7 linked regions of the Homo sapiens genome follow. The protein of the gene in region 6 purifies or fractionates together with the protein of the main gene of each other region. This does not show direct contact. Each region holds a gene or a part of one and is shown on either strand. Other genes may lie near its edges. The genes, in order: EFNB1, ABCB10, PCDHGC3, OAF, PCDHGA11, CEACAM21 and KIDINS220.

The links.
Region 1: the proteins of CEACAM21 (region 6) and EFNB1 purify together in Homo sapiens (affinity purification with mass spectrometry; 3 studies listed by BioGRID and IntAct, with this or other methods). This does not show direct contact.
Region 2: the proteins of CEACAM21 (region 6) and ABCB10 purify together in Homo sapiens (affinity purification with mass spectrometry; 4 studies listed by BioGRID and IntAct, with this or other methods). This does not show direct contact.
Region 3: the proteins of CEACAM21 (region 6) and PCDHGC3 purify together in Homo sapiens (affinity purification with mass spectrometry; 3 studies listed by BioGRID and IntAct, with this or other methods). This does not show direct contact.
Region 4: the proteins of CEACAM21 (region 6) and OAF purify together in Homo sapiens (affinity purification with mass spectrometry; 3 studies listed by BioGRID and IntAct, with this or other methods). This does not show direct contact.
Region 5: the proteins of CEACAM21 (region 6) and PCDHGA11 purify together in Homo sapiens (affinity purification with mass spectrometry; 3 studies listed by BioGRID and IntAct, with this or other methods). This does not show direct contact.
Region 7: the proteins of CEACAM21 (region 6) and KIDINS220 purify together in Homo sapiens (affinity purification with mass spectrometry; 3 studies listed by BioGRID and IntAct, with this or other methods). This does not show direct contact.

The regions. Positions count from the first base shown.
Region 1 is NC_000023.11:68,835,521-68,839,020, reverse strand, and holds part of EFNB1 (ephrin-B1 precursor), read right to left. Parts: intron 405-3,500; coding exon 127-404; intron 1-126. UniProt on the Homo sapiens protein: Cell surface transmembrane ligand for Eph receptors, a family of receptor tyrosine kinases which are crucial for migration, repulsion and adhesion during neuronal, vascular and epithelial development.
Region 2 is NC_000001.11:229,545,208-229,548,707, forward strand, and holds part of ABCB10 (ATP-binding cassette sub-family B member 10, mitochondrial), read right to left. Parts: intron 2,495-3,500; coding exon 2,292-2,494; intron 1-2,291.
Region 3 is NC_000005.10:141,496,466-141,499,965, forward strand, and holds part of PCDHGC3 (protocadherin gamma-C3 isoform 1 precursor), read left to right. Parts: intron 1-3,500. UniProt on the Homo sapiens protein: Potential calcium-dependent cell-adhesion protein. May be involved in the establishment and maintenance of specific neuronal connections in the brain.
Region 4 is NC_000011.10:120,217,532-120,221,031, forward strand, and holds part of OAF (out at first protein homolog precursor), read left to right. Parts: intron 1-3,500.
Region 5 is NC_000005.10:141,497,551-141,501,050, reverse strand, and holds part of PCDHGA11 (protocadherin gamma-A11 isoform 1 precursor), read right to left. Parts: intron 1-3,500. UniProt on the Homo sapiens protein: Potential calcium-dependent cell-adhesion protein. May be involved in the establishment and maintenance of specific neuronal connections in the brain.
Region 6 is NC_000019.10:41,582,666-41,586,165, forward strand, and holds part of CEACAM21 (cell adhesion molecule CEACAM21 isoform 1 precursor), read left to right. Parts: intron 1-1,681; coding exon 1,682-1,778; intron 1,779-2,777; coding exon 2,778-2,830; intron 2,831-3,174; coding exon 3,175-3,206; intron 3,207-3,488; exon of another isoform or gene 3,489-3,500.
Region 7 is NC_000002.12:8,782,114-8,785,613, reverse strand, and holds part of KIDINS220 (kinase D-interacting substrate of 220 kDa), read left to right. Parts: intron 1-3,500. UniProt on the Homo sapiens protein: Promotes a prolonged MAP-kinase signaling by neurotrophins through activation of a Rap1-dependent mechanism. Provides a docking site for the CRKL-C3G complex, resulting in Rap1-dependent sustained ERK activation.

The sequences.
Region 1 (3,500 bases), on a different chromosome or scaffold from region 6:
GATCAGATCCAGCAGGGTCTTAACTACATGCAATAGCATTGCACCACTTAGAAGCTCCCACTACTACAGGAGAGGAAAGAGTTAAGCCCAGGGAGAGAGCCAGAGGATGGGATGGGCGGGACTCACAGGTAATGTAGTAATCATGGTGCTTCTTGAACTCCAGGCCCATGTAGTTGGGGCTGAACTCCTGGAACTTGATGGTAAAGCGTATTTCCTGCTCTGGCCTATTGCAGGTGACCAACACGTTGGGGTCGAGAACTGTGCTACAGGCAGCTGCCTGCTCAGGCCGCACCAGGTACAGCTTGTAGTACTCATAGGGCCGCCCTGCTTCTGCTCGGGGGCAGATGATGTCCAGCTTGTCTCCAATTTTCGGATAGATCACCAAGCCCTTCCCACTCAGGAACCTGCCCAGAAGGAAGAAGATGGTCAGCCTCAGGGTTGGGGGTGGCCCCAGGCCATTCCAGAACCAGGGAAGCGGACAAGAGCCGGGCTGGGCCTACTGGGTGGAGATGGCAAGAGCAAGCCTTCTGCCCTTCCTCCATCCTCAGGCTGGGGGTGGGGAGAGAGAACCACACTACCAGGAGAGTGTGGAAGGGGTGGCCCATGGGCAAGGCTGCCAGGCTCTGACTGCTCGGCAGGGTGGAGCACTGCCTGGCTGGGGGAGCCCTTTGTCCTAATGTGGCATTTCCGCAGGGGGCTGACGTGGCCAATGGGCTGGGTACCAAGGTGTCAGGCCCATGCTACCTGGAGGTGGCAGTCTTATATACCCCCACCCCCAACAAAGATTCCTTCATGACCGCTGCTACTACCTCTCCTATACCCATACACACGTGCGCGCGCGCGCGCGCACACACACACACACACACACACACACACACACACACACACATACACACACACACAGCAAGCCCACACATGTCTTAGTCACCACTCCCCGCAGCTCCCAGCCAAAGGCTGGGGGAGCTCAATCTGTCTGGGACCCATGTCTTCTCCCCCATCCTTACTAATCTTGGTCATGATGGAAAGATAGGAACAGGCATCGCCTGGAGCAAAGGGATGATGGCCACAGTCTCTGGCCAGGTGCAGCTCTGCTCACTCCCACTGCCTATTGTCCTACTGGCAATTCATCCCACCCTCAAAATGCAAGAGCCTGAATTCCTAAACTTGATTCATCTCATTCTTAAAAAGAACAGAGGAGAAGAGAAGGGGCTCAACCAGAGACAACAGATCATAGAAGATAGGGCCTCATCTGTATCCTAACCTGTCACCTCTATGTTGCTCCTACTCCAGCTCCTGAGAGGAGATGGACAAATGCCTTTTGAGCCAGGTTCATATTCTAATCCAGAAGGCCAGGCACTGGGGGACAGCAGGGAGGGTCAGCAGCCCAGGACCACCTATCCATAGGACTCTGTCCTTGCCTAAGCACACAGAAAGAAAATGGTGCTCCATTGGCCATTTCTGAGACTGGATGGGCTGGTGCTGAGAGCAAGGCAGAACCATGTAGGAGAAAGAACACAGACTTTAGAATCAGATTCCAAAGCTAGGCCCTTACTAACTCTGTGACCTTGGATGAGCTGCCTGTTCTGAGCTTCAGTTTCTTCTCTTGTAAAGTGGGGGTGGCAAGAGCCCCTACCTTCCAATATTGTGGTGGGGAGACAAGGCAGCACATGGAGAACACCTAGCACACAATAGGCGTTCAACATGTTTGACTGCCTCTTAGAAGCAGTCTCCCAAGAGGCAGGAGGTCAGATACTAACACTAAGTACCTATGAGCTCACTCTCATATTTTGGAGGGGAAACAGGAAGAGAAGATATGGCTCCATCGTCAAGGACTTTACTGTCCAGTTTGGGTCAGAAAAGTAAATAACCCATACTCGAGTGATAGACAACACCAGGCTATCTGTAGGTATGTGTGAGGATGATGATTCAAGCAGCAAGGGCTGGAGGCAGGGAGAAGAAAGAGATAGCTCATCTGACCAGGATGGTCAGAGATGTATCCACAGGAAAGGCAGGATGAAAGTGGGTCTTAGGTGAGGAATAAGAAGTCAACACACTGAGACAGTAGACAGCAGTGGCTACAACACAAAGCCCAGGCCAGTGATTGGTCCAGCTTGGCTGGGAGTGAGAAGAGAGAAACAGAAGAAGAGGTGAAAAGTTCACCTGGGGCCAGACTGAAAGGCTTCAAGGGTCACAGCAAGCAGGGTGGGTTTCATCCCATTGGAGACAGGCTCTCAGAGCAGGAAGGACAATGGAAGGCTTCAGGCAGTGCTTAAAGAGAATGAAGCTGACAGTGTCATGCACCAGTTCACAGGCTACCACAATCATCTGAGAAAAGAGTGGTTCCATTTCCTGAGGGCCCATTACACCAAAGGTACTACAAGCAATACCGGCCTACTGGGAACTCTGGGCAAATGCCTTTGCAATGCCAAACCTGTGTCCTCATCTGAGGGAGGGAAATGATACCCAAGTAGGCGAAGAGGGAAACTGACCACATGGATGAAGTGGACGAAGAAAAGCAGCCTTTCCTCCATGTCGAGTGAGGCTCCACCAAATTGGGAGCTGCCATCTTGATGTGCAGGAGGGTAAAAGCCAGAATGAGATGGCCTCCCCACTGGTACCTAACTATAGAGGGCCCAGAAAGGAAGTAGGCATGGGATGGAAGCCTGGATAAACATTTCAGATGGAATACCCCTGTCCCATGCACCATACAAAGCCAACAAGTTTCCCCAAAGCCTCTAGAATTCTCCAGGCATTTTTTCCCTTTCCAGTGCTCACAACGGTTCCATCCAGATGGCAGGATTAGACAACTGCTCACATCTTAGAGCCAGCAGGAACCTTAGAGTCCAGGCCCTTCATGTGAGGGAATGAATGATCAGATGAATGTTCCCATTGAAAAGAGGGGTCTAAACCTACCCAGGACAATAACCCGATGGGTCTAAGAGGCCCTAAAACATTACCTGAATCCTTGTACTGTTGCATCTTAACAACACATATATATGCAGCTACATAGAGGGCACGGAAAGGGAGACAGGCCAGCTCAGCTTTCTAACCACTCGGTTCTGGCTTACTCACCAGGGAGTCCTGTCTACCCCAAGTGCAGTCTCCCATTGCCACCCAGGTTCCAGAGCCCTGGAATTGGAACAGGGCTTCTAGCTAATTGGGGTTCTACCTTGAAGCCAGAGGCATTGAGGAAACAGATGTCTACATGATGGAGGAGGGGGGAGAAGAGAGAACTATTGCCCCCAAAACCCCTCAGAGTCTCTTCAACCTCAGTGAACAGACTTCATAAATATTCATTAGTTCATTTGCATGGCAGCTGGCAGAGGGAAACTCACCTTCCCCTGAAGTGCAGAAGGGAGCGGAGCCTGATGAGACCCGCCTTCCCTGACCCTGATCCCCCATACTGGTAACCTTAGCATCTTCCCGACCACTGGGCAAACCTCGTCTTGACCTGTCAGAAGCTCAAGAGAGTGGTAACGGGCCATAAGGGATGGGTGTAT
Region 2 (3,500 bases), on a different chromosome or scaffold from region 6:
AAAACTATTCATATTTGGAAAACGGCATGTTAGTGCAGGAAGGGTCCTCTTCCAGAGGTTTGCTTCTCTCTTAGCTGGAAAATCATGAGATTTCAAAGCTGTTTTTCATTCCGTAAGTCAGATCTAATAGGCAACACACCCTTCCTCTCTAAGTGCTTCATGGGACACAAAGGACAGAATCCAAGCTTTTCCACTTGTGAGAAAGGATTATTTACAGTTCTTATTCCACGAGTCTAGAACTGCACTGCCCAAAACGATAGCCCTACTGGAAACTTGAAATGTGGCAGGTATGACTGAGACATTGACTTTTTAATTGTATTTAGGTTTAATTAAAATTTAAAAGCCTATACTCCATTCAGTTATTGGCAAACTATTAAGTATGTCTGGAAAACTTGAGTATGTCAAACTACTTTTTCAATTGTACATTTTATAAAATCTAAATATAGATCAAGTACTTTCAATGAAAATTTAGCATCCGAATTAAGATGTTCCTTAAGTAGAGAATACACACCAGATTTGGAAATTCAGTTGACCTTTGAACAACATTGGTCTGAAATGCATGGGTCAACTTATACATAGATTTTCTTCCATCTCTGCCACCCCTGAGACAGCAAGAACAACCTTTCTTCCTCCTCTCAGTCTACTCAGTGTGAAGACAATGAGGATAAATACTTTTGTGATGAGCCGGGCGCAGTGGCTCACGCCAGCAATCCCAACACTTTGGGAGGCTGAGGCAGGCAGATCACGAGGTCAGGAGTTCAAGACCAGCCTGGCCAACATAGTGAAACCCCATCTCTACTAAAAATACAAAAAAATTAGCGAGGCGTGGTGGCTGGCACCTATAATCCCAGCTACTCGGGAGGCTGAGGCAGGAGAATCACTTGAACCCGGGAGGAGGAGGTTGCAGTGAGCCAAGATCGTGCCATTGCACTTCAGCCCGGATGACAGTGCGATACTCCGTCTCAAAAAAAAAAAAAAAAAGCTTTTATGATGATCCACTTCCACTTAATAAATAATAAATATATTTTACCTTCCTTATGATTTTCTTAATACCATTTCTTTTTTCTAGCTTACTCTGTTATAAGAACATAGTATATAATACATATACCAAATACATGGTAATTGACTGTTAATGTTATCAGTAAGGCTTCTGGTCAACAGTAGGCTATTAGTAGTTGAGTTTTTAGGGAGTCAAAAGTTATACTTTGATTTTTGACTGTGTGGGCTTCAGTGTCCCAACCCCTGCATTGTTCAAGGGTCAACTATAATATGAAAGAAATAATATAAAATACCTCATTAATAATTTTGATATTAATTACATCTTGAGATGACAATATTTTGTTTATACTGGCTTAAACAAAACATTATTAAAATTAATCTCAGCCAGGTACAGTGGCTCAAGCCTGTAATCCCAGCACTTCAGGAGGCCGAGGCAGGAGGATCACTTGAGGCCAAGAGTTTGAGACCAGCCTGGGCAACATAGAGAGACCCTGCCTCTACAAAAAATATATATATATATTCTTTAAATTAGCCAGACTTGGTGGTGTGTGCCTGTAGTCCCAGATACTTGGGAGACTGAGGTGGGAGAATCACTTGAGCCCAGGAGTTTAAGACTGCAGTGAGCTATGATCTTGCCACTGTACTCCAGCCTGGGTAACAGAGTGAGACTGTCTCTAAAAAAATTAAAATTAAAAAAAAAATTAATCTCATTGGCTTCTTTTTGCTTTTTTAAATGTGGCTACTAAAACATTAAAATCACATATGTGGCTTGCATTGCCTCTCCAATGACCTGCAGCACTGGGCTGAATAGAAATACTGGTTGAAGAGGTAAGGCAAGCAGACAGGACAGGCACAAGCCACCCAGTTAAGGAAAGGAAAAAAGGCCATGGGAGTGAAGAGCTCTCCCCTTAAAAGAGCACAGTTCGACTTACACACACAGAGGAATGGAATTTAGTCACCGCTTGGTGCCACCCACAGGGTAGTACCCAGTGCTCCTTCTACCTGATGCTCTTTTCTGCCTTAATACCCCGGGTACACACATCTCAGAATACCCAGCAGTAACACATGAGTCCATTTTCCAGATAATCACTCATTCTGGAGAAATGAAGGTACAAGAGGCCATGCAGGCAGAGGCAATCCCCACGTTCCAGCAGCTTCTGCAACAGCACTTTTGGCTCTAGGCACTTACAGAATGATGCGAACCGCTCAGCTTGAGCTCGTCTCACACGTGAGAGGCCTGGTGCAAGCCAAGCCCTGGCAGGAAGGTACCAAGGGGAACCAGGCCCACATACCATCATACTGATGCCTACGGAAGCCTGGGCCCCGGCCCTGAGCCCATCTGAGAGGTTTTCAGTCACTGAGCGCCCCAGGAGTGCAGTGTCTGATGAGAGGCGGTTAATCAATTCTCCTGTGCGAGTCTTGTCAAAGAAAGCAACCTCCTGCCTCAGAATGGAGGAGAATAATGAAGTTCTCAGCCTATTCACAATGCGCTGACCTGCAAAAGCAAACACGAACAGGCTCACCAAGGGTAAAGACATCCATTACCATTATGGGGCAGCCACTTACTGTGCAGCAGCTTGGCCTGGAGTTGTAACCCTCCTGAGCAATGCAGCCTCTGAGCGTGTCTGCTGCACTGTATCCCATGGGTGGAAAGAGACTTTCCCAAACCAGGCACATTAACTGTCATGCACTACTAACACTACTTTTCTCTTATTAACTACAGACTGTGGGCGCTAGTGAGAGGATACAGGAATAAAATAAATATAACATGACTCAGAGGCCTTTTTTATTTTTACTTTTTTTTTTTTTTTAAGAGACTGGGTCTTGCTCTATCACCCAGGCCTGAATGAAGTGGCACGATCACAGTTCACTGTAACCTCAACCTTGTGGGCTCAAGCCATCCTCCCACCTCAGCCTCCTGGGTAGCTGAAACTACAGATGTCCGCCACTACACCCAGCTAACTTATTTTTATTTTTTATATAGACGGAGTCTTGCTATGTAGCTCAGGCTGGTCTCAAACTCATGGGCTCAAGCAATCCTCCTGCCTCAGCCTCCCAAAGTGCTAGGATTACAGGCATGAGCCACCACACTTGGCCGAGATTTTTTTAAGGTATTATTTACAAAGAAGTTTTATTACATTAACTTCCAAAAGCTCATTTTGTTCCTCCCTGGAAACCCTTTCCTGTATTGAACCTTCAAATGGCAAGAATTGGTTAATTATCCACAGAGATAAATGGAGAGCAACAGACTTCGAGTTGGTGTCCCAGGTTCTCTCATTATTGTGGCAGTGACCTGCCTGTAAAAACAAGACCTCTTCAGAGAAATACTAACAAAGTTATCATCCCAGCTGCTACTTAAGGAGAAACACAAGCATGGGGCATGTAAATGGGTTTCTGAAGCCTTCAGGAAGCCTCAGAAGTCCAGCTTCATGGCCAGGGGCCTCATTTTCTTTTTTTTTCTTTTTTTTTTTTTTGAGATGGAGTCTCGCTCTGTCCCCCAT
Region 3 (3,500 bases), on a different chromosome or scaffold from region 6:
TTCCCCCATCCTGCAACCAACCAAACCCTTGTTGCCACAAGGACCCAGGAGCCCTTGGTGTATGGCAGAGATTCCAGCTTCTGGGCATGCACAGTCCTGTCACCCATTTTAGGAACGCAAAGCGCTTCTTAGAAGGCCCCTAAAAAGCAGCAGATCAAAAGGCTTGGGCTGCCCTTGCCCTTCCTTTGACCCCAGCTGTTGTCCTTCTCCCTGCTGGCCTTGCCAACCTTCTCATAAGTTATCCATTAAGTCATTAATGTATTCATTCGTTCATTTATTCAACAAATATTTATCGAGCATCTACTATGAGCAGGGCCCTGTGCTAAACATTGGGCTATAGGAGTGAACAAGTAGATGTGATCCCAGAACTCATAGGCTTCCAGACCAGCAGAGGAGACTGAAAATTTGCAACAAGTAACACTTAAAAAAAAAAAAAAAGGCTGGGCACTGTGGTTCACGCCTGTAATCCCAGCACTTTGGGAGGCCAAGGTGGGTAGATCACTTGAGGTCAGGGGTTTGAGACCAGCCTGGCAGCCAACATGGTGAAACCCCATCTCGATTAAAAATACAAAAATTAGCCAGGCGTGGTGGCAGGCACCTGTAATCCCAGCGACTTAGGAGGCTGAGGCAGAACTGCTTGAACCCGGAAGGCAGAGGTTGCAGTGAGCTGAGATCACGAAAAAAAAATAATCTAGCCACAAATCACAGTAAGTTCTGAGAGGCAGAGAACAATGTGAGTGTAATGGGGGGGGGAAGATCAGAGAAGGCTTCTAGGAGGAGGTGACATTGAGAAGTTCTAGGCCATTTATGTTCCCTCTACCTACCACCACCCCAGGCCATACACTGGCTTTGAAGCAGAATTCACCATTGAACCTGGAAGCCCCACCAACTGCCTCTCATGTGTCCTCTGGGGTGAGCACCTTACCCCTGCCTCAACTCCCATTCCATCAAATGAGAGGCTTAGTGGCCTGGAATACATGTGGGAGCTCTTGGAGATATGGAGGAGAAGGTGCGGAACCTCTCTCTCTCTCCTCTCTCTGCTTCCTTAGTTAACTTGTGGAGGATGCAACAAACCTTTTTTTTTTTTTTTTTTAGACAGAGTCTTGCTCTGTTGCCCAAGCTGGAGTGCAGTGGTGCGATCTTGGCTCACTGCAACCTCTGCCTGCCAGGTTCAAGCGATTCTCCTGCCTCAGCCTCCCGAGTAGCTGGGACAGCAGGTGTGCACCACCACACCCAGCTCATTTTTGTATTTTTAGTAGAGATGGGTTTCGCCACGTTGGCCAGGCTGGTTTCAAACTCCCCGACCTCAACTGATCCACCTGCTTCAGCTTCCCAAAGTGCTAGAATTACAGGTGTGATCGCCCCCGGCCACAACAAACATTTTTGATTCAGCGGCTCCAAAGTGAAATAAGCGTTAGGATCTAGTCCAGTAACTTCAACTTCTCTCCTTCATTCATTCAACAAATGGTCAGTGAGCACTTTCTGTTGGCCAGGCAGTGTTCTCGATGTGGGAGGCCCCTGCCCTCAAGGAGTTTACAGTGCACTGAAGGAGACAAATATTGACCAAATAATTACAAAAATAAATGTGAGACTGAAACTGTCATAAGTGCTAGGTAGAATTGTATCTGGTGGTGTGGGCGTATAATAGGGATTTGATTTAGGGAGCAGGAGGACATCCTGGAAATGAAGTTGTGCTGAGATCTGAAAGACAAATACAAATTAACCAGCTAAAGAAAAGAAGGAAGAGCATTCCAGATGGTCAGGCATACCAGCTTCAAAGCAGGGCTGGTGTTGAGTTCTTCAGTAAACTTGGTTCAAGATCAAGCCAGCTCTGGGTCACACTGCCTACACAGAAGGAAGAGCATTCCAAATGGGAAAAGCCTATGCAAAAGCCTTGTGGTGAGGCCTCCTGGGATCAAGGGAATGGCAGGGAGTTTTCTCTTTGCTGGCACTGGAGTGAGGGGATGAAGAGGAGAGGTTCCTTTTATCCAGTCTAACCCTGGTTCCAGCCTTCTGTTGATGCCCTGCCTCACTCCCTCCCCACCATCTTGCCCACTGCCCTCCAGCCTGGTCTGGTCAGACACACCAGCTTCAAAGCAGGGCTAGTATTGAGTTCTTCAGTAAACTTGGTTCAAGTTCAAGTCAGCACTGGGTCACACTGCCTAGACAGAAGGAAGAAGACCTGGCCAGGTGTGGTGGCTCACGCCTGTAATCCCAGCACTTTGGGAGGCTGAGGTGGGTGGATCACCTGAGGTCAGGAGTTTGAGACCAGCCTGGCCAACATGATGAAACCCCATCTCTAGTAAAAATACAAAATATTAGCCAGGTGTGGTGGTGCACACCTGTAGTCCCAGCTACTCAGGAGGCTGAGGCAGGGGAATCGCTTGAACCCAGGAGGCGGAGGTTGCAGTGAGCTGAGATCACACCACTGCACTCCAGTCTGGGTGACAGAGCGAGACTCCATCAGGAAAGAAAGAAAGAAAAAGAGAGAGAGGGAGGGAGGGAGGGAAGGAAGGAAGGAAGGAAGGAAGGAAGGAAGGAAGGAAGGAAGGAAGGAAGGAAGAAAAGAAAGAAAAAGGGAGAAAAAATGAAGAAGACTTACATTCTGAAGTTCCTGCTTGGCACATGCTTCTCCTCCCCACCACTATCCCTTCTCAGGTCATCCTTTGGGTGTCTGATCCCAATAGCTGTTGTCTCAAGCTCTGAGCCCAGCAAACCATTTCCCCCTTCTTAGGCTGTAACCCAGGCCCTGCCCTGCAGCTGTCCCCAGCCTCTGCACAAAGAGTCTCCATTTGGTCCCTAGACTGTTCTCTGATGGCTCCACACTACCATCCCTCCTCTGAGAGACAGTATCCCTGCTCTCTCTCAGTTTGGGCAGTCATTCAACAAACAAATAGCAACTTAATTTTTTTCCACTTATAAAATAGTACATGCTCATTATAGAAACATGAAAAATAGAAAAAAAATTAAAAGGAAAACCACCCATCATTTTACAATCTAGGGAGAACCACCACCAACTACAGTTTAATATGAAACATTTCAAATATGTACAAAAGTAGAGAGAATGGTGTCATGAACCTGTATGATACCACTATCCAGCTTCAACTAATGCCTTATCTTGTTTCACCTATATCCCTACCCTTATCCTGTCCTTGGATTCTTTTGAAGCAAATCTCAGACATCATATAATTTCATCTTGGTCTCCACCATCTTTAACAGATGACTTTTTTTTTTTTTTTTTTTTTTGGAGACAGAGTCTCACTCTCTTGCCCAGGCTGTGGCACAATCTCAGCTCACTGCAGCCTTCGCCTCCCGGGTTCAAGCAATTCTCATGCTTCAGCCTCCTAAGTAGCTAGGATTACAGGTGTGCACCACCACACACAGCTAATATTTTGTATTTTCAGTACAAACAGGGTTTCGCCATGTTGGCCAGGCTGGTCTTGAACTCCTGGCCTCAAGTGATCCACCCTCCTCGGCCTCCCAAAATGTTGGGATTACAG
Region 4 (3,500 bases), on a different chromosome or scaffold from region 6:
TCACGCCGTTGCACTCCAGCCTGGGCAACAGAGTGAGACTCCATCTCAAAAAAAAAGAAAAGAAAATATCTCACAGACACTAGTGAGCAATCACTATGTACGTTTTTTCCTGCCACTTACCCACTGTGTGACTTGGCAAGTCACTTAACCTCTCTGAGCCCCAGGCTCCTTGCCGGTACACCAGAGACAACAGTGTGATGCTTGGGGTTCAGTGTGCGCAGTGACTAAGAGGCCCTTCGCAGAACAGAGGCCCGCGTGGGCATGTGAGGAGTGAGGTGCCAGTGCCCGCTTGGATGTCCGTCTACCCCACCGTTAAGCATGTTGCTGCAGCTGCTGCTTTTCTGCTGTAGGGACCAAAGCATCATGAGGAGCTAACATCCTTGAAGTTGGCAAGTGTTGAAGTGGCTGCCACTAGGGATTCAGATAAAGGGCAGGGAGAGGCATCAGGGCTGGGAGTGCGGGTGAGAGGGAAGCATGGAGACCCGTCTCAGGAGCACTGAGTCAGCAGCACAGTGGGGCGCAGTTGATCCACATAAAGCCTCACATTGTTCCTGCAGCAGTCAGGACAGTGGTGACCTTTGGGATTCGGCTGACAGAGCACTGCTCTGGGGAGGGGCTGGGGGCAGGAGCACTGCTCTGGGGAGGGGCTGGGGGCAGGAGCACTGCTCTGGGTGAGTGGTTGTGCTAATGCCCCAAGACAAGCAGCCTCTGTCCAGGCCTAGCCCTGAGGGGATGCTGGCATCTCATCATGGGGCGGCCTAGGTCCCTGGGCACTGGCCTCGGGATGTGCGTGGCCTGGCTCTGGGTGGAATCCATCCACCCCGTTCCTGCTCGAGAAGCCTGGGCAGAGCAGCCAGGGTGCTTCCAGCTTTGCCGTGGGGCTAGGAAGGCACTGCTTCCTGGCTGGCTCTGCAGGCTAAACCCCCTCTCCCCTCCCCAGCCCAGCGAAGCCAGCCACTTCTCTAGCCATAAAGCAGCCCCAGCCAGGAGCAGAGGAATAAATATTTAGATTGGCTCAGCCTGGGCCCCAGAATCATGCTCTCTGGTGTGACAGGAAGGAGACCAAGATGGCAGAGGACACTCCCAGGAGAGAGCGCCAGCTGTCCAGGAGCAAGAGGGTTGGAAGAATGGGAGGGGGCCAAGTGGCTTGTGTGGCCCTAGAGCGATGACCTGCAGCCTGGGCCATGACCAGCACTGGACAGTGGTGGCTGGAAGCAGGGTGTGGAGGGAAGGGGCAGTCTGCTGCCCTGGCCCCCTTTGCTTTCCATTCTCCTGCAGGCGGGCCTCCCCCCAAACCCCAGGGCTTTCTGGGGAGGGGCTGAGGAAGAGCGCCTGGAGAGTGGGGCCAGCTAGGGACCGTGATGGGAAGGCAGGGTGCCAGAGGAGACCGGGCAGGCTGGAGCAAGGTGATGACATGCGGTAAGAGTGTGTGCCTGCACATGCACGCATGTACACGTGTGTGTGTGTGTGTACACACGTTATGAGAAGTGGCATCGGGAGGAGGCGTGTGAGGAGAATCGAGCAAGTGAGGAGGGTGATGCGGGGTGTGCCCTGACGCTGGGCATGAGATGGGGAATTCACAGGGGGGGTGGGCGTGGGGACTGCGGAGAGGGGTGTGATGAGACGGTGGGGAGCCGCCTCTGCCGGCAACAGGGAGACTGAGGGAGGAGACAGGCCCAGATGCACCCCTGTGGAGGGAATGGGAATGTGGAACAGGAGCCACTGGGAGACCTTGCGGGAAGGAGACTGAGACCCAGCTTGTCTGTGAAAGAGGACGGTGTGCGCGAATGGGGAAGCCGTGTGAGCCTGTGCATCAGTTGAGATTAGGCTCAGCCGTGAGCAACATAAACCCCCAGGAACAGCGGCTGAGGCCGTGGCAAAACAGCCTGTTTCATTCTTCCCAGTGTTATCTGAGTCTGGAAGCCAGTCAGGGCTGGTGTGACAGCCCCGCTATCCCCTGGGATCCAGGGGCTCCCTCCCCACCCTCAGTGCTGAGCACAGGATGTCTGCCCAGGGGTGCTCTGCCGTCTCTCAGCGCATTCCCCCAGTGCAGCTGAACCAGAGCAGCCTTCCCTCTGGAGACACAGGTGGATCCCAGTCAGACAGCATGGCTGGGATGGGCACAGGGAGGAATTGAGTATCTGGACAAGGGCTACGGAGGGGAGCCAGGACAAGCATGAAGATCACTGGACTCAGAGTCAGGAGGTCTAGGCTTCTGGCCCTGGCTCTGCCACTGTGTGACTCATGAAGGTTACTTCCCTGCTGGAACCTCACTGGGCCATGAACTAGATGATCCCCTAAACCTTCTAGATGCCAAAATAGCAGCTGTAGCACTATCAGCCTGCAGGAGCCCAGCTGCAGGCAAGGCCGAGAAGAAAGAGTGTCTGCACATTGGAGGCCAGTGGGTTGATGGAGGCCCTAGAGCATTCATTCGTTCCTCCAGCTACTAAGCATTGAGCCCCAGCTGTGCGACAGACCCCAGGGTCACCATGTGAATAGGCTAGAGTCGCTGCTCTTGAGCCAGAGGCAGGTCACAGAGGGCTTGGATGACTAACTGCCTGGGCAGAAGGTGCTCCATGAGGACAGAGACCATCTGACTGGGGCACTGAGATCCAAGGCACTCTCACAACCTCAGGCAGAGTCTGATTCAGCTCCAAACCACAGGTCCCTCATGTCACCCCAGGCTCAAACCCACCAGTGACTTCCAGAGAGGCACAAGAGGAAGCCTCCCACTCCTCAGCCTGGTTCAGACCCTGCGTCCTGCTTGTGTCCTGACCCCTTGCCAGCCTCATCAGCACTCACGACCCTTCCCCTCCTCCCCTAGTACATTCCCACCGCTTTTCTCAGAGAACTCTTCCATGCTGTTGTTCATTCACCCTTCATGTATTCCTTATCAGATGTTTATTGAGCACCTGCTGTGTTCCAGGGGGCAGGGATGCACTTCAAGCAAGCCACTTTTCCTGGCTCAAGAAGTTGAGTCTGGAAAGAAAGACAAGTAAAGAGGTCAGCAAAAACACAGTGGGAGTAAACAGTGGGATTTGTGCTCTAGAGGCAGCGACTGGGATTGGCCAACTCTGCAGAAGGGCTGGTGAGGGCAGCACTGGGAGGGCAGTCAGAGGAGGGTCGTTTGTGAGCTGTGCCCTGCACACAAGGCACAGCTGAGACAGCTGAGCACAGGGCATCCCGGCAGAAGAACCTGCTCACAGAAAGGCCTAGGGGTGACACAGCATCGCTCATTCTGGGAACTACAAGCTCTCCGGTTCAGTGCATGGGAAGTGCAACAGTTGCTGTGAGCAGGGACCTGGGATGCCAGGCTCTGGGGTTAGGCTTTCTGGTGAGGACAAAGGGAGCCCTTGAAGGGCATTCGGCCACTCGGGTGATAGTAGCATGGAGGGATGATTGGGTGGGGGCACTGGGAGACTCATGCCTGGCTGTCTTCTGTAAATGCCTCATTGCTGGAAAGCCCTCCATCCTTTAACTGTCAAGGGCCAATGAGGAGT
Region 5 (3,500 bases), on a different chromosome or scaffold from region 6:
CTAAAAATACAAAAATTAGCTGGGCGTGGTGGCGCGTGCCTGTAGTCCCAGCTACTCAGGAGGCTGAGGCAGGAGAATTGCTTGAACCCAGGAGGTGGAGCTTGCAGTGAGCCGAGATGGCGCCACTGCACCCCAGCCTGGAGACAGAGCGAGACTGTCTCAAAAAAAAAAAATTGTAAATGAATGTGTATGTTTTCTAATGTAGCAAAAGCCCATTAGCATTAGAAAAATAATATGTATATTCATATGAGGACTTATTCTGTAAAATAATATGTATATTCATAAGAGGAGTTACTCTGCAAATGACTTGGGAAGAATTTTGAAAGACATGGGGAAATTCTCATGATACACTGCAAAGAAGAAAAAAGCTATAATTCTGTTGGACAGTATGGCCTCAGTTGCTATTTTTAAAAAACTAGTAGGAAATGTACCGTATGACTGGGAATAACAGTTCTTAATATGTGAATAAAGTGTCACATGAAAGTGTGACAAGTTTGTGAACAACTTATTTAGGTGAATGAGATTTTTTTAAAATGAAGCTCGGCCAGGCGCGGTGGCTCACGCCTGTAATCCCAGCACTTTGGGAGGCCGAGGCGGGCGGATCACGAGGTCAGGAGATCGAGACCATCCTGGCTAACACGGTGAAACCCCGTCTCTACTAAAAATACAAAATAATTAGCCGGGCGTGGTAGTGGGCGCCTGTAGTCCCAGCTATTCTGGAGGCTGAGGCAGGAGCATGGCGTGAACCTGGGAGGCGGAGCTTGCAGTGAGCCGAGATTGCGCCACTGCAGTCCAGCCTGGGTGACAGAGCAAGGCTACGTATCAATAAATAAATAAATAAATAAATAAATAAATAAATAAATAAAAATAAAAATGAAGCTCATGCATGTTCTTTGATTACACAAAGAAAAGTTTAGAAAGATATATATGAAAAGGCAGGGATTCAACAAATAAATTGCAAAAATGGAAGATGGAGGGGAAGTCTTTTACATTAAAAGAGCATTAAGATACTTAAGAGACACTCACTCAAATATAAAATGTGGACCTTATGAAAGAATCATCTGGCCGGGCAAGGTGGCTCACACCTGTAATCCCAACATTTTGGGAGGCCGAGGAGGGTGGATCACTTGAGGCCAGGAGTTCAAGACCAGCCTGGCCAACATGGCGAAACCCTGTTTGTACTGAAAATACAAAATATTAGCTGTGTGTGGTGGTGCACACCTGTAATCCTAGCTACTTAGGAGGCTGAAGCATGAGAATTGCTTGAACCCGGGAGGCGAAGGCTGCAGTGAGCTGAGATTGTGCCACAGCCTGGGCAAGAGAGTGAGACTCTGTCTCCAAAAAAAAAAAAAAAAAAAAAAGTCATCTGTTAAAGATGGTGGAGACCAAGATGAAATTATATGATGTCTGAGATTTGCTTCAAAAGAATCCAAGGACAGGATAAGGGTAGGGATATAGGTGAAACAAGATAAGGCATTAGTTGAAGCTGGATAGTGGTATCATACAGGTTCATGACACCATTCTCTCTACTTTTGTACATATTTGAAATGTTTCATATTAAACTGTAGTTGGTGGTGGTTCTCCCTAGATTGTAAAATGATGGGTGGTTTTCCTTTTAATTTTTTTTCTATTTTTCATGTTTCTATAATGAGCATGTACTATTTTATAAGTGGAAAAAAATTAAGTTGCTATTTGTTTGTTGAATGACTGCCCAAACTGAGAGAGAGCAGGGATACTGTCTCTCAGAGGAGGGATGGTAGTGTGGAGCCATCAGAGAACAGTCTAGGGACCAAATGGAGACTCTTTGTGCAGAGGCTGGGGACAGCTGCAGGGCAGGGCCTGGGTTACAGCCTAAGAAGGGGGAAATGGTTTGCTGGGCTCAGAGCTTGAGACAACAGCTATTGGGATCAGACACCCAAAGGATGACCTGAGAAGGGATAGTGGTGGGGAGGAGAAGCATGTGCCAAGCAGGAACTTCAGAATGTAAGTCTTCTTCATTTTTTCTCCCTTTTTCTTTCTTTTCTTCCTTCCTTCCTTCCTTCCTTCCTTCCTTCCTTCCTTCCTTCCTTCCTTCCTTCCCTCCCTCCCTCCCTCTCTCTCTTTTTCTTTCTTTCTTTCCTGATGGAGTCTCGCTCTGTCACCCAGACTGGAGTGCAGTGGTGTGATCTCAGCTCACTGCAACCTCCGCCTCCTGGGTTCAAGCGATTCCCCTGCCTCAGCCTCCTGAGTAGCTGGGACTACAGGTGTGCACCACCACACCTGGCTAATATTTTGTATTTTTACTAGAGATGGGGTTTCATCATGTTGGCCAGGCTGGTCTCAAACTCCTGACCTCAGGTGATCCACCCACCTCAGCCTCCCAAAGTGCTGGGATTACAGGCGTGAGCCACCACACCTGGCCAGGTCTTCTTCCTTCTGTCTAGGCAGTGTGACCCAGTGCTGACTTGAACTTGAACCAAGTTTACTGAAGAACTCAATACTAGCCCTGCTTTGAAGCTGGTGTGTCTGACCAGACCAGGCTGGAGGGCAGTGGGCAAGATGGTGGGGAGGGAGTGAGGCAGGGCATCAACAGAAGGCTGGAACCAGGGTTAGACTGGATAAAAGGAACCTCTCCTCTTCATCCCCTCACTCCAGTGCCAGCAAAGAGAAAACTCCCTGCCATTCCCTTGATCCCAGGAGGCCTCACCACAAGGCTTTTGCATAGGCTTTTCCCATTTGGAATGCTCTTCCTTCTGTGTAGGCAGTGTGACCCAGAGCTGGCTTGATCTTGAACCAAGTTTACTGAAGAACTCAACACCAGCCCTGCTTTGAAGCTGGTATGCCTGACCATCTGGAATGCTCTTCCTTCTTTTCTTTAGCTGGTTAATTTGTATTTGTCTTTCAGATCTCAGCACAACTTCATTTCCAGGATGTCCTCCTGCTCCCTAAATCAAATCCCTATTATACGCCCACACCACCAGATACAATTCTACCTAGCACTTATGACAGTTTCAGTCTCACATTTATTTTTGTAATTATTTGGTCAATATTTGTCTCCTTCAGTGCACTGTAAACTCCTTGAGGGCAGGGGCCTCCCACATCGAGAACACTGCCTGGCCAACAGAAAGTGCTCACTGACCATTTGTTGAATGAATGAAGGAGAGAAGTTGAAGTTACTGGACTAGATCCTAACGCTTATTTCACTTTGGAGCCGCTGAATCAAAAATGTTTGTTGTGGCCGGGGGCGATCACACCTGTAATTCTAGCACTTTGGGAAGCTGAAGCAGGTGGATCAGTTGAGGTCGGGGAGTTTGAAACCAGCCTGGCCAACGTGGCGAAACCCATCTCTACTAAAAATACAAAAATGAGCTGGGTGTGGTGGTGCACACCTGCTGTCCCAGCTACTCGGGAGGCTGAGGCAGGAGAATCGCTTGAACCTGGCAGGCAGAGGTTGCAGTGAGCCAAGATCGCACCACTGCACTCCAGCTTGGGCAACAGAGCAAGACTCTGTCTAAAAAAAA
Region 6 (3,500 bases):
GAAGCCATGGCCCCAGCTGTACCTTGGCCCTCTTTAGCCATGGCTGGAGTGGCTGGGATGCAGGGCACCAAGTCTCTAGGCCGCACACAGCAGGGGAGCCCTGGGCCTGGCCCAGGAAACATTTTTTCCTCCTAGGCCTCCAGTCCTGTGATGGAAGGGGCTTCCAGGAAGGTCTCTGACATGCCCTGGAGACATTTTTGCCATTGTCTTGGGGATTAACATTTTGCTCTTCATTGTTTATGCACATTTCTGCAGCTGGCTTGAATTTCTCCTCAGAAAATGGATTTTTCTTTTCTATTGCATCATCAGGCTGCAAATTTTCCAAACTTTTATGCTCTGCTTCCCTTTTAAACATAAGTTCCAATTCCAAACCATACCTTTGTAAATACATAAAACTGAGTGTTTTTAACAGTACCCAAGTCACATCTTGAACACTTTGCTGCTTAGAATTTTTTTTCCACCAGTTGCCCTAAATCATTTCCCTCAAGTTCAAAGTTCTGCAGATCTCTAGGGCAGGGGCAAAATACCACCAATCTCTTTTCTAGAGTATAACAAGAGTCACCTTTGTTCCAGTTCCCAAGAAGTTCCTCATCTCTGTCTGAGACCACCTCAGCTTGGACTTTATTGTCCATATCACTATCAGCGTTTTAATCAAAACCATTCAACAAGTCTCTAGGAAGTTTCAAACTTTTTTCCTGTGTCTTCTTCTGAGCCCTCCAAACTGTTCCAACCTCTGCCTGTTACCCAGTTCCAAAGTCACTTCCACATTTTCAGGTATCTTTATAGCAGCACTCCACTAGCTGGTACCAATTTACTGTATTAGTCCATTCTCACACTGCTAATGAAGACATACCTGAGACTTGGTAATGTATGAAGAAAGAGGTTTAATTGATTCACAATTCCACATGGCTGGAGAGGTCTCACAATCATGATGGAAGGTGAAAGGCATGTCTTACATGGCAGCAGGCAAGAGGACATGTGTAGGGAAGCTTCCCTTTATGAAACCATCTGATCTCCTGAGACTTATTCACTATCACAAGAACAGGATGGAAAAAACCCACCCTCATGATTCAATTACCTCCCACAAGGTCCCTCCCATAACACATGGGGATTATTACAATTCAAGGTGAGATTTGGGTGGGGATACAGAGCCTAACCATATCAATGGTGATGAACACCAAATACGTATTTCACAATATCACATACCCTTCTCCCTCAAGGCAATGGGAGGGTGAGAAAAGCTGCAGGTAGATTGATTCCCACTGTGCCTTCCATGTGGAAGGCCCCTGAAAACAGTCAATGAACATCATCCCTGCTCATCAGCATTGAGTTGGCAGCAAGGGCCTGCCCTTTACGACTGCCATGGGATGGAAAAAAAGAAACAGGGGGAAGAGGAGTGATGTGAGAGGAAGGAGGGACTAAAAAACACAGGAGCAGGATGAGGTGCAGGCTTCCTGTGGGAGAATGTAGGAGTTGATGCATCCCAGTAATTCAAGCCTAAGACACAGAAAATGGTGCAACCACGGAGAGCAAGGGAGCCAGCTATGAGGACAGCACAACAGACCACACTCAGGCTCCATGGCATTTCCTTCCTCCCTGACCATGCCCCTGCCCTGCAAGGCCCCTCATGGTTCCCCCTGGAACAGATTTGGACCTCATCCCCTTTGCCTTCTTCTTTCAGCAGATGACAACACTCTAGGCATCCTGATCGGGGTCCTGGTTGGGAGTCTTCTGGTGGCTGCACTTGTGTGTTTCCTGCTCCTCCGAAAAACTGGCAGGTACCACAGCTTTTCCCCATTCTGCTCCCATCCTTCACGCTGACCCCAGGCGAGAAGGAAGGAGACCCTGTCTTGTATTCAGTGCCAGGCTCTCCCCAGCCTCCCGACTCCCCAGGGATCCTTCCCTCTCATTCCATGGCACCTTCCTCACCAGCTGCTGACCCTGGGCTGCTTCCTCAACAGCTTTGTCCTCAGTGAATTCAGTCCAATTAAGGCCATGCCCCTGAGCATGGTCCTAGTTTCCTAGCACAGCAAAGCCACAGCTGCCTGGAGCAGGGGGGAGCGGTGCTCAATACCTGGTACCTCCCCCTGTTCACTGAATCCATCCACCCAGTGAGAGGGCATCTGAGGGGGGATCCTGGGCATCATCACATAGTGGAGACTGGAACAGCCTGGACGGGCTGGGTGGGGTCAGCACCCCTTTGACTGACATGGTAACTGCAGACACTGAGCTGTGAGAAGGGAGAACCGGGGCCCCAATATGGCATATCCTGGAATGTCGTTTATGTCTCTTGCCAAAGGGCAGAGACAGAAGACAAGATCATTGTCCCATTTCAGCATCTCCAGCCCTGAGTGGAGTGTCTGGTCACAGCAGGGACACTGAGTTCCAGGAGAATCCAAGATGCATGCAGTCCCCTCAGTGTCCTGCACATGTGCCTGGCCCTGCTTTCCCCCTGGTGCCTTGACCCTTCCTCTCAGGCAACCCCTGGTGGTCTGATTCCTTCCCTGGGTCCTCAGTCCCTTTCCTGTGTCACTGGATCAATGTTCTCCTGGCCCAGCATCTGCCTGAGAGTCCTTCCCCTCTGGCCAGGACAGATGTGGCTTTGTAAGGCCTTTCCTCAACTCCCCTCACCTGGGCCCCTCCTACCACAGAACTCCATAAAGAAAGGAGGTCTCCATACCCCTCTTGGAAATAGGCTCCTTTCCTGGTCCCCTATTTTAACTCCAATTTGTGACTTTTAACCTTGCACCTTCACAAATAACCCTGACCTTTCCTAGGGCCAGCGATCAGAGTGACTTCAGGGAGCAGCAGCCCCCAGCCTCCACCCCCGGTGAGTGTCCCTTCAGTCTGGGTGTGGCTGGGAACTACTAAGCCAGCCCCAAGTTGTCCACTCCTGCCAGTTACACCCAGGGGCCTCTGACCCTATCCCTGGGGCTGCAAAGAGGATCCCATAAAACATCACACAGGAAACCCCAACTGGCCGGGTCAGCCCTAACCTCCGGGCTCTGGGTCATGGGTCACTTCCTCAACCTCACTTGCTTACTTGACCCCTAAAATAACCTGAGAAAGGCTCCCTCTCCCCAATTCTCTAAGAACTGAGGACCCCCACACACTCTTGCAGGAGGGGCCCAGCTATCCTAACACTCTCGTGCTCACTTTTGTCTCTGTCCCCAGGCCATGGACCCTCTGACAGCTCCATCTCCTAGGTAAGACTGTCCGTTCCCAATCCCATTTCCACTGGGGCCCCAGCTGTGCAGGCTCAGGGCAGGGGGACTGTCAATCCCCAGCACAAACCCACCCTACCCAGAATGACTTGGATAAGGTTAGACCTGCCCTGGCCATGAGCTGGGCCTCTGTTCAGGGCCAGGATCATCCACTCCCTGTGCTAACCCCACCCTGGGACCCTCCATCACCTGAGGAGAGCCCTGGAATTCCTACACAGCAGGAATCCTTCCCTGTCCCCTGACACCCCTCTCTCCCCTGCCCAGATTCCCCTACCC
Region 7 (3,500 bases), on a different chromosome or scaffold from region 6:
CATTCATTCATTCGTTCATTCAAGACTATAATTTAAGGTAGTTTTAAGTTCACGGTAAAATTTAGAGGGAAGTGCAAAGATATCCCATATACCCACTTCCCCCACACATACACAGCCTCCCCAATTGGCACGATTACCCACCAGAGCAGTACATTTGTTACAATTGATGAACTTAGGCTGACACATCATAATCACCCAGCATCCATAGTTTACAGTAGGGTTCACTCTTGGTGTGGTACATTCTGTGGGCTTGGACAAATGTATAACATGTATCCACCATTATAGTCTTATACAGAGTAGATTTATTGCCCTCAAAATCTTCTGTGCTTCACCTCTTCACACCTGTTCACCCCTCCCTCCACCCTCCTCCCTAACCCCTGGCTACCATTTCTTTTTACTATCGCCATAGTTTTGCCCTTTCCAGAATGTCATATAGTTGAATCATACATGTGTAGTCTTTTCAGATTGGCTTCTTTCACGTAGTCATATGCATTTAAGTGCCCTTCATGTCTTTTCATGACCTGCTAGCTCATTTCTTTTTAGCATGGCTAATGTGCCATTGTCTGGATATATCACAGTTCATTTATACATTTATCTACTGAAGGACATCTTTATTGCTTCCAAGTTTTGGCAAGTATGAATAAAGCTGCTATAAACTTTTGTGGACAGGCTTTTGTGTGAACATAAAGGATTTGAAAACTCCTTTGGGTAAATACCAAGGAGTGTGATTGCTAGATTGTATGATGTTTCGTTTTGTTAGAAACAACCAGACTGTTCTGAGGTGGCTATTTTGCATTCCCACCAGAAATGAATGAGGCTCCTGTTGCTCCACATCACATCCTCACCAGCATTTGGTATTATTGGTGTTCTGGATTTTGGCCATTCTGTTAGGTGTGCAGTGGTATCTTATTGTTTGAATTTGCATTTCCCTGATTACACATGTTGTGGAGCATATTTTCATGTGCTTATTTGCTATCTGTATGTCTTCTTTGGTGAATTGGCTGTGAAGGTCTTGGCTTATTTTTCAGTCAGGTTGTTCATTTTCTTATTGTTGAGTTTTAAGAGTTCTTTGTGTATTTTGGCTAATGGTCCTTTATCAGATAAGCTTTTTGCAAATATTTTGCTCCATTCTTTTGGTTGCTTTTCATTCTCTTGACAGTGTCTTTTGCAGAGCAGACATTTTTGATGAAGTCTAGCTTACTAATTCTTTCTTTCATGGATCTTGCTTTTAGTGTCCTATCTAAAAAGTTAACACCAAACCTACGGTCACCTAGATTTTATCCTCTGTCATTTTCTAGGTGTTTTATACTTTTGCATTTAGGTCTGTGAGCTATTTTGAGTTAATTTTTGTGAAGTGTGAATGTGTCTAGATTCTTTTCTTGCTTGCTTTCTTGCTTCCTTGCTTCTTTTCTTTTTTTTTTTTTGTTTCCAGTTGTTCCAGCACCATTTGTTAAAAACGCTATTTCTTGCATTGTATTGCCTTTGCCGCTTGTCAAAGATCAATTGACTATATTTGTGTAGGTCTGTTTCTGGGCTCTTTCTCTTTGTCTGTTCGTTTGCGCATACCACACTGTTTGATTACTCTAGCTCTATTTTCTTGAAGTTGGGTAGTGTCAGTCCTCCTATTTTGTTCTCCTCCTTCAATACTGTGTTGGCTATTCTGGGTCTTTTTCTCCTCATATGAACTTTTGATTCACCTTGAATAACTTGCTGGGATTTTCATTGAGATTGCGTTAAATCTTTAGGTCAAGTATTGAGTCTTCCTACCCATGAACATGGAATATCTCCTCATTTATTTAGTTCTTCCTTGATTTCTTTCAAGAGTTTTGTGGTTTTTCTCATATAGATCTTATACATATTTTGTTAGATTTATACCTATTTCGTTTTTTGCAGTGTTAATATATATAGTAATTGTGTTCTTAATTTCATGTTTGACGCTGATATATAGGAAAGTGATCAACTTTTGTATTAATCTGAAATCTTGCTATAATTGTTTGTTAGTCCCAGGAGTTTTTTTTCATTGTGGTTCTTTCGGTTTTTCTACATAGAGAGTCAAGTCATCTGTGAACTAAGACAGTTTTCTTTCTTTCTTCCCAGTCTTCATACCTTTTATTTCCTTTTTGTTTGTTTGTTTTATTGCATTAGTTAGGACTTGCAGTACTATGTTGAAAAGGAGTGGTAAGAAAAGGGACAATCTTGCCTCGTTCCTGATCTTAGTAGATGTTTTCATGTTCTCACCATTAAGTATGATGTTAACTACAGATACTCTTTATCAAGTTGAAGAAGTTCCTCTCTATTTCTAGTTTACTGAGAGTTTCTACCATAAATGGTGTTGGATTTTGTCAAATGCTTTTGCTTTATCTAATTATGCAATCATGTGATCTTTCTTCTTTAGCCTGTTTCTTTTTTTTTTTTTGAGACGGAGTTTTACTCTTGTTGCCCAGGCTGGAGTGCAGTGGTGCCATCTCAGCTCACTACAACCTCCACCTTACGGGTTCAAGTGATTCTCCTGCCTCAGCCTCCCAAGTAGGTGAGATTACAGGCATGCAACAGCATGCCCAGCTAATTTTGTATTTTTAGTAGAGACGGAGTTTCACCGTGTTGATCAGGCTGGTCTTGAACTCCTGACCTCAGGTGATCCACCCTCCCTCCTCGGCCTCCCAAAGTGCTGGGATTACAGGCATGAGCCATTGTGCCCAGCCTAGTCTGTTGAAGTGATGGATTACATTAATTGATTTTTGAATGTGGAACCGGCCCTACCTACCTGGCATAAATCTCACTTGATTGTGGTGTATAATTCTTTTTATACATTTTGCATATGATTTTCTAATATTTTGTTGAGGTTTTTTGCATCTATGCTCATGAGATATTTATTGGTTTGTAGTTTGCTTTTCTTGTCAAGACTTCGTCTGCTTTGGGTATTAGGGTGATGCTGACTTCATAGCATGAGTTAGGAAGCATTCCCTTTGCTTCTGTCTTCTGAAAGATCCTATGTAGAGTTGGTATAATTTCTTCTGTAAGTGCTTGGTAGACTTCATTAGTGAACCCTCTGGGCCTGGTGCTTTCTGTTTTGAAAAATTATTATTGATGCAATTTCTTCAATAGATATAGGCCTGTTCTTGTGAATTTTGGCAAATTATGTCTTTGAAAGAACTGGTCTGTTTATCTAAGTTATCAAATTTGTGGGCATAGAGTTGTTTGTAGTATCCCTTTATTATCCTATTTTTGTCCATGAGGTAGGTCTAAAGTGGTAGCCTCTCTTTTATTTGTTGTTTTTCTGAATTTGTGTTTCCTCTTCTTTCATCTTAGTTAGTCCAAGGCTTATTGATTGTGTTTATCTTTTGAACTAACTAGCTTTTGGTTTCATTGTTTTATTTCTGTTTTAGTTTTTATTATTTCTTTTCTTCTGATTACTTTGGATTTAATTTGCTCTTTTTCTAGTTTCCTGAGGTGGAAGCTTAGATTATTAATTTTATTTTATTTTTATTTATTTATTTTTT